3 separate regions of the Homo sapiens genome follow, and regions 2 and 3 are each reported to be linked to region 1. Evidence: microRNA targets listed by miRTarBase, many of them from high-throughput screens and not tested one by one. Region 1 holds a microRNA gene; each other region holds the end of a gene's coding sequence.
Evidence for each region. The annotated mature microRNA hsa-miR-218-5p reads UUGUGCUUGAUCUAACCAUGU and lies in region 1 at 1,243-1,263, shown strand. An mRNA with a match to its seed (bases 2 to 7 or 8) in the 3' UTR can be bound and repressed. Matches are read on the target gene's strand: a 7mer-m8 pairs with bases 2 to 8, a 7mer-A1 pairs with bases 2 to 7 and ends in A, and an 8mer does both.

Region 1 (3,067 bases):
TTCTTATGAGATTCTGATTCCATTTCCACTAAGACACATTATTTATAAGTTGAAAAGTTCATTAAAAAGTGTACATCACAACATAAGGATTAATCCAAATGTTGTAATGATTGTCCTTGAGGATCTCCATGATTAGTTTTTCATTCACTTTTACGTGTGTACCTCGCTACTACCATTTTATATGGCACTCTACATATTACAGTGATAAAAGAAAATCTGTCTTGCAGAGAGTTCATCTTTTTTTTTTTGGAGATGGAGTCTCGCTGTCTCCCAGGCTGGAGTGCAGTGGCATGATCTCGGCTCACTGCAAGTTCCGCCTCCCGAGTTCATGCCATTCTCCTGCCTCAGCCTCACCGAGTAGCTGGGACTACAGGCGCCCGCAACCATGCCCAGCTAATTTTTTGTATTTTTACTGGAGATGGGTTTTCACCCGTCAGGTGAAATGGTCTTGACTTCCTGACCTTGTGATCCGCCCGCCTTGGCCTCCCGAAGTGCTAGTATTACAGGCGTGAGCCACCACACCCGGCCTTGAGAGTTCATCTTTTAAAGGAATCAAGAACTTAATTTGCACTATGCATCTTTTATTACATTGGTTTTCTTGTGAGACCACCGTGCTTCAAAATATTATTTATAAAATTTTACAAAGCATGACAATTCCCATCACATCATGCTATTTTTTCAATAATTCCCATAATAAAGAAAGAAGGAAGAGAGCTTAGTTTTATAAATATGTATATTAATCTTAATTGGGATTACTCTTTCTTTCCTTCTTGGTGATCTTTACTTTTGCAGGAATTCACCATTTTGGCTGTAAGTAAAAGTGTCTGATCTGAAACATAATACCCTCCCTTTTCAATCCTGATGTACCTTCTTCTAGTCTTGGTCTTTGGCACCTTTTTTTCAAGAAGAAACCACAGATCTTTTGAGCTTCTCTGTTGTCCTTGTAGCTCACCTTCAACTTCTTCCTGGATGTTGTTCCCGAAAGCTGTTGTTTCCATTCTGCAGTTCTGAGGAATGGTGGAGGCACCTTTTCCATATAGCCCCTTCTTTGTGTTTCCAGGAAATCATCGGTAGTAATACTCTTACTGTGGTCATAAACATTCTGCGGGAAGAATGCATGTCATGTAAACAGTATTACGTTTCCAGAACGTCTGTAGCTTTTCTCCTCCTTCCCTCCATTTTCCTCTTGGTCTTACCTTTGGCCTAGTGGTTGGTGTAGTGATAATGTAGCGAGATTTTCTGTTGTGCTTGATCTAACCATGTGGTTGCGAGGTATGAGTAAAACATGGTTCCGTCAAGCACCATGGAACGTCACGCAGCTTTCTACAGCATGACAAGCTGCTGAGGCTTAAATCAGGATTTTCCTGTCTCTTTCTACAAAATCAAAATGAAAAAAGAGGGCTTTTTAGGCATCTCCGAGATTATGTGAGAGGGAGAGAATAGTAAAAAGTCCATAGAAAATTTAAAAGCCTGAGTATATCTATTTGCCTTGAAAGCCCTAATTTACAATGAGATATAGGATCATGTTTATTACTGGATATATTTTCAATTCTTGACTCCGAGAAAAAAAATAAACTTTTTAATAATTAATATCCATTGTGTGACTAGCTGTGAAGTAGGCTAGAATGACTCAGAATTGGATCAGCAGAAAGTACAGCTGTGAAAAGCTCAACTTTATTAATGTTTTCCTGTCATGTGAATCTGGTCACTCTTTTTTCCAGAAAATTCCAAGCCTTTCTTTTAACCTTTCTCCTGACATCCATTGACCAAAATACCCCAAGTTGTCTCCCTGCTACATAATCTATAGTTATCTTACTTTTTTCTTCCTACAAACTAATAAATTTTCTAACCTTTAGACTCAGTATCTTTTTTTTGGTTTGAATTCTCAATAGGTACAGAAGATTATCGATCAAAATTAAGTGGAGACTGCTTTGCGGATCTGGCTTGCCCTGAAAAGTGTCGCTGTGAAGGAACCACAGTAGATTGCTCTAATCAAAAGCTCAACAAAATCCCGGAGCACATTCCCCAGTACACTGCAGAGTTGTAAGTTCATCCCCCAACAAAATTCTGGTTGGGATGGAGGGAATGAAAGCATTAAAGCATAAGAATGTTTGTCTTGCCATTTTTATTATTAATAATTGCATTAATTTTAATTAATATGCATTACATTGGCATAACTCTATTTTGTACAAGAATATATTAGAGGCTACCTTCATTCATCTTTCTAGCCAACCATACGATTAAGTACAGAAACTAATTTATCTCTCAAAATTCAGTAAGCACTTCATACTAATAACAATGGTATTTATTTGATGCTTATTTATTGGGTATTATTTATTCCCAATTTGTTTTCTAAGTACTTAGTTTTTAACGTATTTAATTCTTATAGCAACTAAATAAAGTAGTTTGAGAGCCTCCATTTTCAATCTCTGTAAACTATCAATAGATTCAAGGAGTCTGTCTTACCTAATTTACTACTTCATTGACTTACGGGCAGAAGGATTCAGTGGTTATCAAGTATTAAAGTAGAAAGGATAGCTTTTTCTGAACAATGCAAGAAAAGCTGAAAAGGCAGAATATGATGGTATTTACACTTAACAGCCTTAACATAGGACCTTGCACATACTAAGTGCTAAGGTGTTTGTTGGAGCACTTACAGATTCTATGCCCATGCATGGTTTGCCTTTACTGACTTTATTTATAAGAAGAGGACCTTTAATGTTAGTGTTCTAACAATTCAGGGAAAAAACTAGCAAAACCTCATCATTCTCTAAACATCTTAGCCATGTTTATATATAGCACCATCTGGTATTTGTCATTTACTGCTTTGCAAAGTTCGTTGTCTGTTTGTTTGTATATAATCCTTCCATCTTTAACTAGATTATAGCTCCTTGATGACAGGGATTGTGTGTTATTGTTTATCTCTCACTGTGCCTATACTCATGCCTGTACTTAATTAATTTTTAGCAATTTGAATAACTAAAAATAAAGTAATGCCTTTCAAAGAGTTGACAGAAACCCACTATCTTGTAGTTATAGTGATTTTTTTTTTTTTACTCCTATTAGT
Region 2 (3,067 bases), not on the chromosome of region 1:
TCCTGGGACTGCTCCTGAAAAAATAAGGTAGTGACATAATCACCGTAGCCCGGAGTCAAATGGTGCAACAGCAGGAACACTTCTTGTAGCAGGAGGAGACAGGCTAGATGGGGCCTCCATAGCCCTGGGCCACATCCTGGTCAGCTGTGAGGGCACAGGCGGACGGACACCTAATACCTGGGAGAGTGCTCACCGCGTGAGAAGTGCGGAGAAAGGGTTGCAGAAGTAAAGATGATTTTGTTTCTGTAAAAAGGCATATGGGTATATGAACATGTGAGGGTATACGTCAATGTGCAGACAGAACAATCTTGAAAAATTTACAGTACAGTATTGAGTTCATTTTTCATCAAAGAACATGTGTTTAGAATAAGGGGAGCCTGTAGTTTTGAGTAAGAGAAGTCAGGTATCTCACCACGGGCCTGGTCAGTGTCCTGCTGTGTGGAGCCACAGGATCCCTCTGCCTCCCCTCCCTCCTCCCTCTTCATGACAATGCTTGGTTTTGCAGGAGGTGCTCCCCTCATCTGGAGGCCCTGCTGGACCGGAGGCCACCCAGTTCCCAGGAAGCACTATCAACCTGCAGGATCTGCAGTGACGGCAGCCTCGGCCTGGGCAGGCCCAAGGCCACGGTCTAGGACACACCTTCCCTGAGACTCATGACATGAGCCTGGGGAGACCTCATTTGGTTTCCGTTCAGAAGACCAGCGTAGCCCTTTTGAGACTTTTGGGTACATTTATCAAAAATGTTTTCCTTTTGTTTTACCAGGAATGAGTTCGGGCTATACTCTTTGAAACTGCCTTTGTGAGCAAAGTGCTTTGGCAAGGCAAGGGTCTCCCTCAGCAGGGCTAGGTGCACTACAGCCTCTTTCCCCGTGTCCCGTTGGATCTGAGCTGTGTAGCACTTGTTGCATTACAAAGAAAAAGACTTCTGCAGGAAATAGGGTAGAGAACAGGCTGTCTAGTCAGATGCAGCTTGATCTGTGGCAAAACCAAGTGTGGTCTTTCAGCTTCAGTGTGTTAGCATCCCAGCACCTGGGATGGGGTTTGTGGGCAAGTTGATTTTGCCACACTGTAGGGCCCAGGTGGTCCCATTGCCACCGTGAAGCCAAATTCTAGCCCAAGTCTGGTAGAGCAGTCGGGCAGCTAGTTTTCGGGGGAGGATGATGTGGTGGGACAGAGGACCTCAGTGGCCTATTACGGAGCCCTCTTCCCAGACTAAATTCATAGCCGAGAGCTCGGGGGGATGGTAGAGTTAAAATTTAAAATAATTTTCTAAATTCTGTATTTGGATATTAGTGTTTAAGTGGTAATTTGGCAACAGTTTATAAAGTGATGTTCTGAATACCATAAATTATGTGTAGGACTGTGATGGCGCGTGTATGTTTTATTATTGAGGTTGATGTGCACATAATACGTCAGTGTATATTTTTACCGAGTGAGGTCTGTCTTGTAAAAGGAGACAAGGTGATCACCTTGCCCATGTTTATTTGTAAGTCTGTCAACTTAGCAATGACACAGGGTCACTCCTAAATGACTTTTTTTTTTTTTTTTGCCTTGTGCCTTTTGAAGTATGTGTTCATTCAGAGGCTGTTTTGATTCTCAGACTGAATCATTCAAACTCTGCCCTGTGTTTGTTTCTTGAATTTGGGGGTGACATCAAGTTTGAGTGAGTCCTCCCTCTGTCTTGTCTCACTCTGAGGTGCTGTCCCCAGGTGCTGTTCCACGTGGAAGAATCCACACCTCGTCGACAAATGGGTCTTCTCCACAGACCGGCGCTCTGTCACCAACTAAAGGCGAGGGGAGAACTTGCCCACCTGGCAGGCTCTTTAGCCCCAAGGTGGCCCGGAGTCCTCCTCCCTCCATGGGAGGCTTTTGGCCACCATGGCGGGTGGAGCCGCACCCACCCCATCTCCATGGGGAGGAGAGTCTTCCCCCAGGAATGCCCTCTCGGCCTCTATTTTTCTCCCATGTGCCTCCCTGGGAACGTCACCGTGAAGTGACTGGGACTGGCACCCAGTGTTCTGGGCACCAAGGTTCCCTGCCGGTGATGGGCCTAACTCCTAGTGCAAATGAATGAAAGTTTTCTTATAGTCATGCACCGAAGGTTTTTCACCTTGGCTTAATTCAAGTAGCTACATATATGGCATTCAGCCCATTGTTTCTCCTTTAGTTGGTAGTGCTGGCCCTGCCATATACCTAGCTGCCTGCTTGTATTTCTTTGGTCTTTGCACAGAGGCTGATCTCACACTACACTCAGCGTGGAATTAGCTTTTGTCTCGCAGAGCAGCTGTTTTAGATGGGAACCAAGGTGTCATGCTCTTGCCCTCAAGCATCTGCTTAGGGTTAAATGATGAACCGGCGGGGTGCTGAGATTTGGCAATGGTGGCTGCATCCTTAAGCAGGCCTTCAAGACTCCAGAGAGACATGAATTTATTCAGGTGAGGAAGGGAGCACACAGGAGACAGAGAGGACTCAGTTGGGCCACTCGAGACCCAGCCCAGTCTCTGCTTCCTCTGCCAACATCTTTGCTAAGCCTTCAGCCAGAACAGCTATGGTCTGCGAAGATTAAGTAAAGAAAAATAGCAGCTCCTCCTCCTCCTTGTCCATCAGTGTGTGCTCAGACTGTTGTTTGATCCTGTGGGCTGGGGGTCGTGAGCGGCATACCAGTGTCCTGCCTCTCTGCAGGGGAAACAAGCCCAGTGAGCCTTGCTGCCTAGTGAGCCGTATGCCCATATACCCCTGCCCCTGGTGCAGGGAGAGGCCCAGCAGCTCCAGTCACCTCCAGGCCACTCTGGTCAGCCCTGCAGGCTGAGGGCTGGAGTTAACTCTGAAATAACTGGGGGTGTGAGTCTGCCTGGCATTTATCAAGCCTGGTCTCTGGAGCACCACCTATTAGATGTGGGGGCAGAGGGACCTGCTTCCTGTTGCCAGGGTCAGAAGGCAGGAAGGGTGGGGGCCTTGGGACACAGCAGTAGGGGGACCCCAGTGACGGGCAGTGAGCAGGGCTTGGGGTCTGGCCGGAGTGTGGGTAGGGTGGTGGGACCCTGCTCCTGAGCAGAGTGTACCTGGC
Region 3 (3,067 bases), not on the chromosome of region 1:
GAATTTTTTGGAAGTAACACAGAGAAACAGTCTGATGGGGTACAGCTCAGCATTTGCCTTATATGGACTTGGTCTGATCAGTTGGCAGCCTGTGACTGGTTAAAGCACAGCTGCTGTGACTTGCTGAGATTCAACTATTTGTTACAAGAATATAGTCTCAGTTGGGAGGCAGTTTACTTAAATATTAAGTTAGGTTGCAGTTCAACAGGTATGGCAGCAGCTTTGGGCCAAATTCTCTTTTTTTTTTTTTGGAGACGGAGTCTTGCTCTGTCACCAGGCTGGAGTGCAGTGCACGATCTCAGCTCACTGCAACCTCTGCCTCCTGGGTTCTAGTGATTCCTCTGCCTCAGCCTCCCGAGTAGCTGGGATTATAGGCATGTGCCACCATGCCCGGCTAATTTTTTGTATTTTAGTAGAGATGGGGTTTCACCATGTTGGCCAAGATGGTCTCGATCTCCTGACCTCATGATCCGCCCACCTTGGCCTCCCAAAGTGCTGGGAACTTTGGGCCAAATTTAATTGAATTTAAACATTTCTGCCTTTTGGTCAGCCTCTCAATTTTGAGAGATTGACCAAAACCTTGGGCCCTGACTCCATTTCCTGTCACCATCATAATGGACTTGTTTTGTTTCAGTATTGACTTCACAATTTCACCTTAGTTGAATGATTCTTTATGCTTTCTTCATGTTTTTGTTACTCTAACCCTAACAGACCAGTTGATTTATAAAGAATGGCTGCATAGGAGTATGTAAGACTTCCCAGGGGAGTCAACACATCAGAGAGACTATTATTATTATTATTTTATTATTATTATTATTTTTGAGAGGGAGTCTCGCTCTGTTACCCAGGCTGGAGTACAGTGGCGCAATCTTGGCTCACTGCAACCTCCACCTCCCAGGTTCAAGCGATTCTCCTGCCTCAACCTCTTGAGTGGCTGGGATTACAGGCATGCACAACCACACTGGCTAATTTTTGTATTTTAGTAGAGACAGGGTTTCACCATGTTGGCTAGACTGGTCTTGAACTCCTGACCTCAAGTGATCCACCCGCCTTGGCCTTCCAAAGTGCCGGGATTACAGGCTTGAGCCACTGTGCCTGGCCTATTATTGTTATTTAAGATGGAGTCTTGCTCTGTCACCCTGGCTGGAGTGCAGTGGTGCAATCTTGGCTCACTGCAACCTCCACCTCCTGGATTCAAGAGATTCTCCTGCCTCAACCTCCTGAGTAGCTGGGATTACAGGCATGCACAACCACACTGGCTATTTTTTGTATCTTTAACAGAGACAGGGTTTCACTATGTTGGCCAGGCTGGTCTCGAACTTCTGAGCTCAAGCGATCTGCCTGCCTTGGCCTCCTAAAGTGCTGGGATTACAGGCGTGAGTCACTGTGCCCGACCAGGGAGACTATTATGATGGCTATGAGTGGACAATGCCAAGAAACTGAAGTACACTCCTTATCAGGAGTTTCAACAAACAACTAGTCAAAATCAAATAACTCAAAGTCCATGCAATAAAGATAGTTCAATAGCATTTGAGTCCAATTGGTCAGTCTTTGTTCAGGGATGATGGTGATTAAAGGCCAAACCCTCCCCATTAAATGAGAGATCTACATTAGAGAGGTTTCAGAGACCTCCACCCAGCAACAGTGGGCAAGCAGCGTTTATAAACAGAAAAAGGAAGTGGCATTGGATATAGGCTGATTGGTTACAGCTCAACCTTTGTCTAATTTGGACACATCTGGTCAGTCTGCAGTCTGCCCCTGGCTGAAGGCTGGCTGCTATGATTGGAGAAGACTCCTTTCTTCTTACAAGAATATACTGCCTGGTCAAGTTGTAGTTTGTTTACATAATAAATAAGGTTACATCCCAGTCAAATCCTCCCTACAAAGTATCCCCTATTCTGACCTCTATCACCATAGACTAGTTTTTCTGCTTTAAATAAATGGAATCATGCAATTAAAGAAAAAAGAGAGAAAAAATGAGGTTACAGTTCACTAGATTGCAGGACTTTTGAACAAATTTATTACTTATTTTTTTGATAGAGTCTTGCTCTGCCACCCAAGCTAGGGTGCAGTGGCATGATCTCAGCTTACTGCAACCTCCACCTCTGGAGTCCAAGTGATTCTCCCACCTCAGCCTCCTAAGTAGCTGGGATTACAGGAGTGTGCCACCACGCCGGACTAATTTTTGCATTTTTAGTAGAGAGGGGGTTTCACTATGTTGGCCAGGCTGGTTTCGAACTCCTGACCTCAGGTGATCCACCCGCCTCAGCCTCTCAAAATGCTGGGATTACAGGCATGAGCCACCGCACCCGGCCTGGCACACATTTAATTTAATTTAGCAGTAACTTACTCCCTGCGCCCAGAAGAGGTAGGGGCAAGAGTTGCTTTCCATGAAGAGTGCACCTGATGAGAAGGCAGCTCCAGAAGACTCAAAGGAAAACCGAGAATCAGGAGAGAAAGAAACGTGCAGTCCTTGCCTACTTCAGGGGAGGACCCCAAACTCCCGGTTGATAGTAGGGACCTGCTTCCCCATGCGCCCCAGCTCCCTCTCCACCATGCAGTCGCCTCCTGGGCCTGGCGACCACAGTTCGGGGCCTGCTCTAAGGCCCAGAGTTCTCAGTCAGGCGATGCCCAGCTGAAGTGGTCTGGGCCTCGTGGCAGCACCAGATCCAGGGTGAGGTCACGCTGCTGGTCCGCAGAGTACACAGGCCGGTAGCCCAGCAGCTGCAGCGCGCCGGCGCACACCTCCTGCACGCGCAGGATCTTAGTGAAGGGCAACGCGTGGCGCCAGGCCTGGGAGACGTTGCGCGCATTCCTAGACGAAGTATGGAAGGCCTCGATTGGCTTGCCGATCCCCGACCCGTGGGTGATGTTGTGGATCCAGGCCTCGAGCTGTGGCGTGAGGGTCAGGCCGGTGAAGGCGTAGAGTGCGCGGATCTCTGCCAGCGGCTCCCGCGCCAGGTCCTCGAAGCGCACCAGGCGGTAGCGGCCGCGCAGGAAGGGTGGCGGCTTGAGTGTGGCGGCCTCGGCGATGCGCACGTGGCTGCGGCACACCTCGCGAATCAGG

Region 2: miRTarBase lists ZXDC as a target of hsa-miR-218-5p. The part of its 3' UTR that is shown has no 7-base or 8-base seed match.
Region 3: the mRNA of CHST5 is a reported target of hsa-miR-218-5p. The part of its 3' UTR that is shown has no 7-base or 8-base seed match.

Annotation. Positions count from the first base shown.
Region 1 is chr4:20,527,057-20,530,123 of GRCh38, forward strand. It overlaps MIR218-1 (microRNA 218-1), which reads left to right and starts at 1,219; the gene lies at 1,219-1,328. SLIT2 (slit guidance ligand 2) reads left to right here. Exons shown (of 37, transcript NM_004787.4): 16 at 1,893-2,043.
Region 2 is chr3:126,435,900-126,438,966 of GRCh38, reverse strand. It overlaps ZXDC (ZXD family zinc finger C), which reads left to right. Exons shown (of 10, transcript NM_025112.5): 10 at 506-1,366. The coding sequence ends at 592. CFAP100 (cilia and flagella associated protein 100) reads right to left here. Exons shown (of 17, transcript NM_182628.3): 17 at 2,411-2,676. The coding sequence ends at 2,563. Among named protein-coding and RNA genes, the nearest start is that of ZXDC, 38 kb to the left of the region's middle.
Region 3 is chr16:75,526,533-75,529,599 of GRCh38, forward strand. CHST5 (carbohydrate sulfotransferase 5) reads right to left here. Exons shown (of 4, transcript NM_024533.5): 4 at 1,998-3,067. The coding sequence ends at 2,617. Among named protein-coding and RNA genes, the nearest start is that of CHST5, 8.0 kb to the right of the region's middle.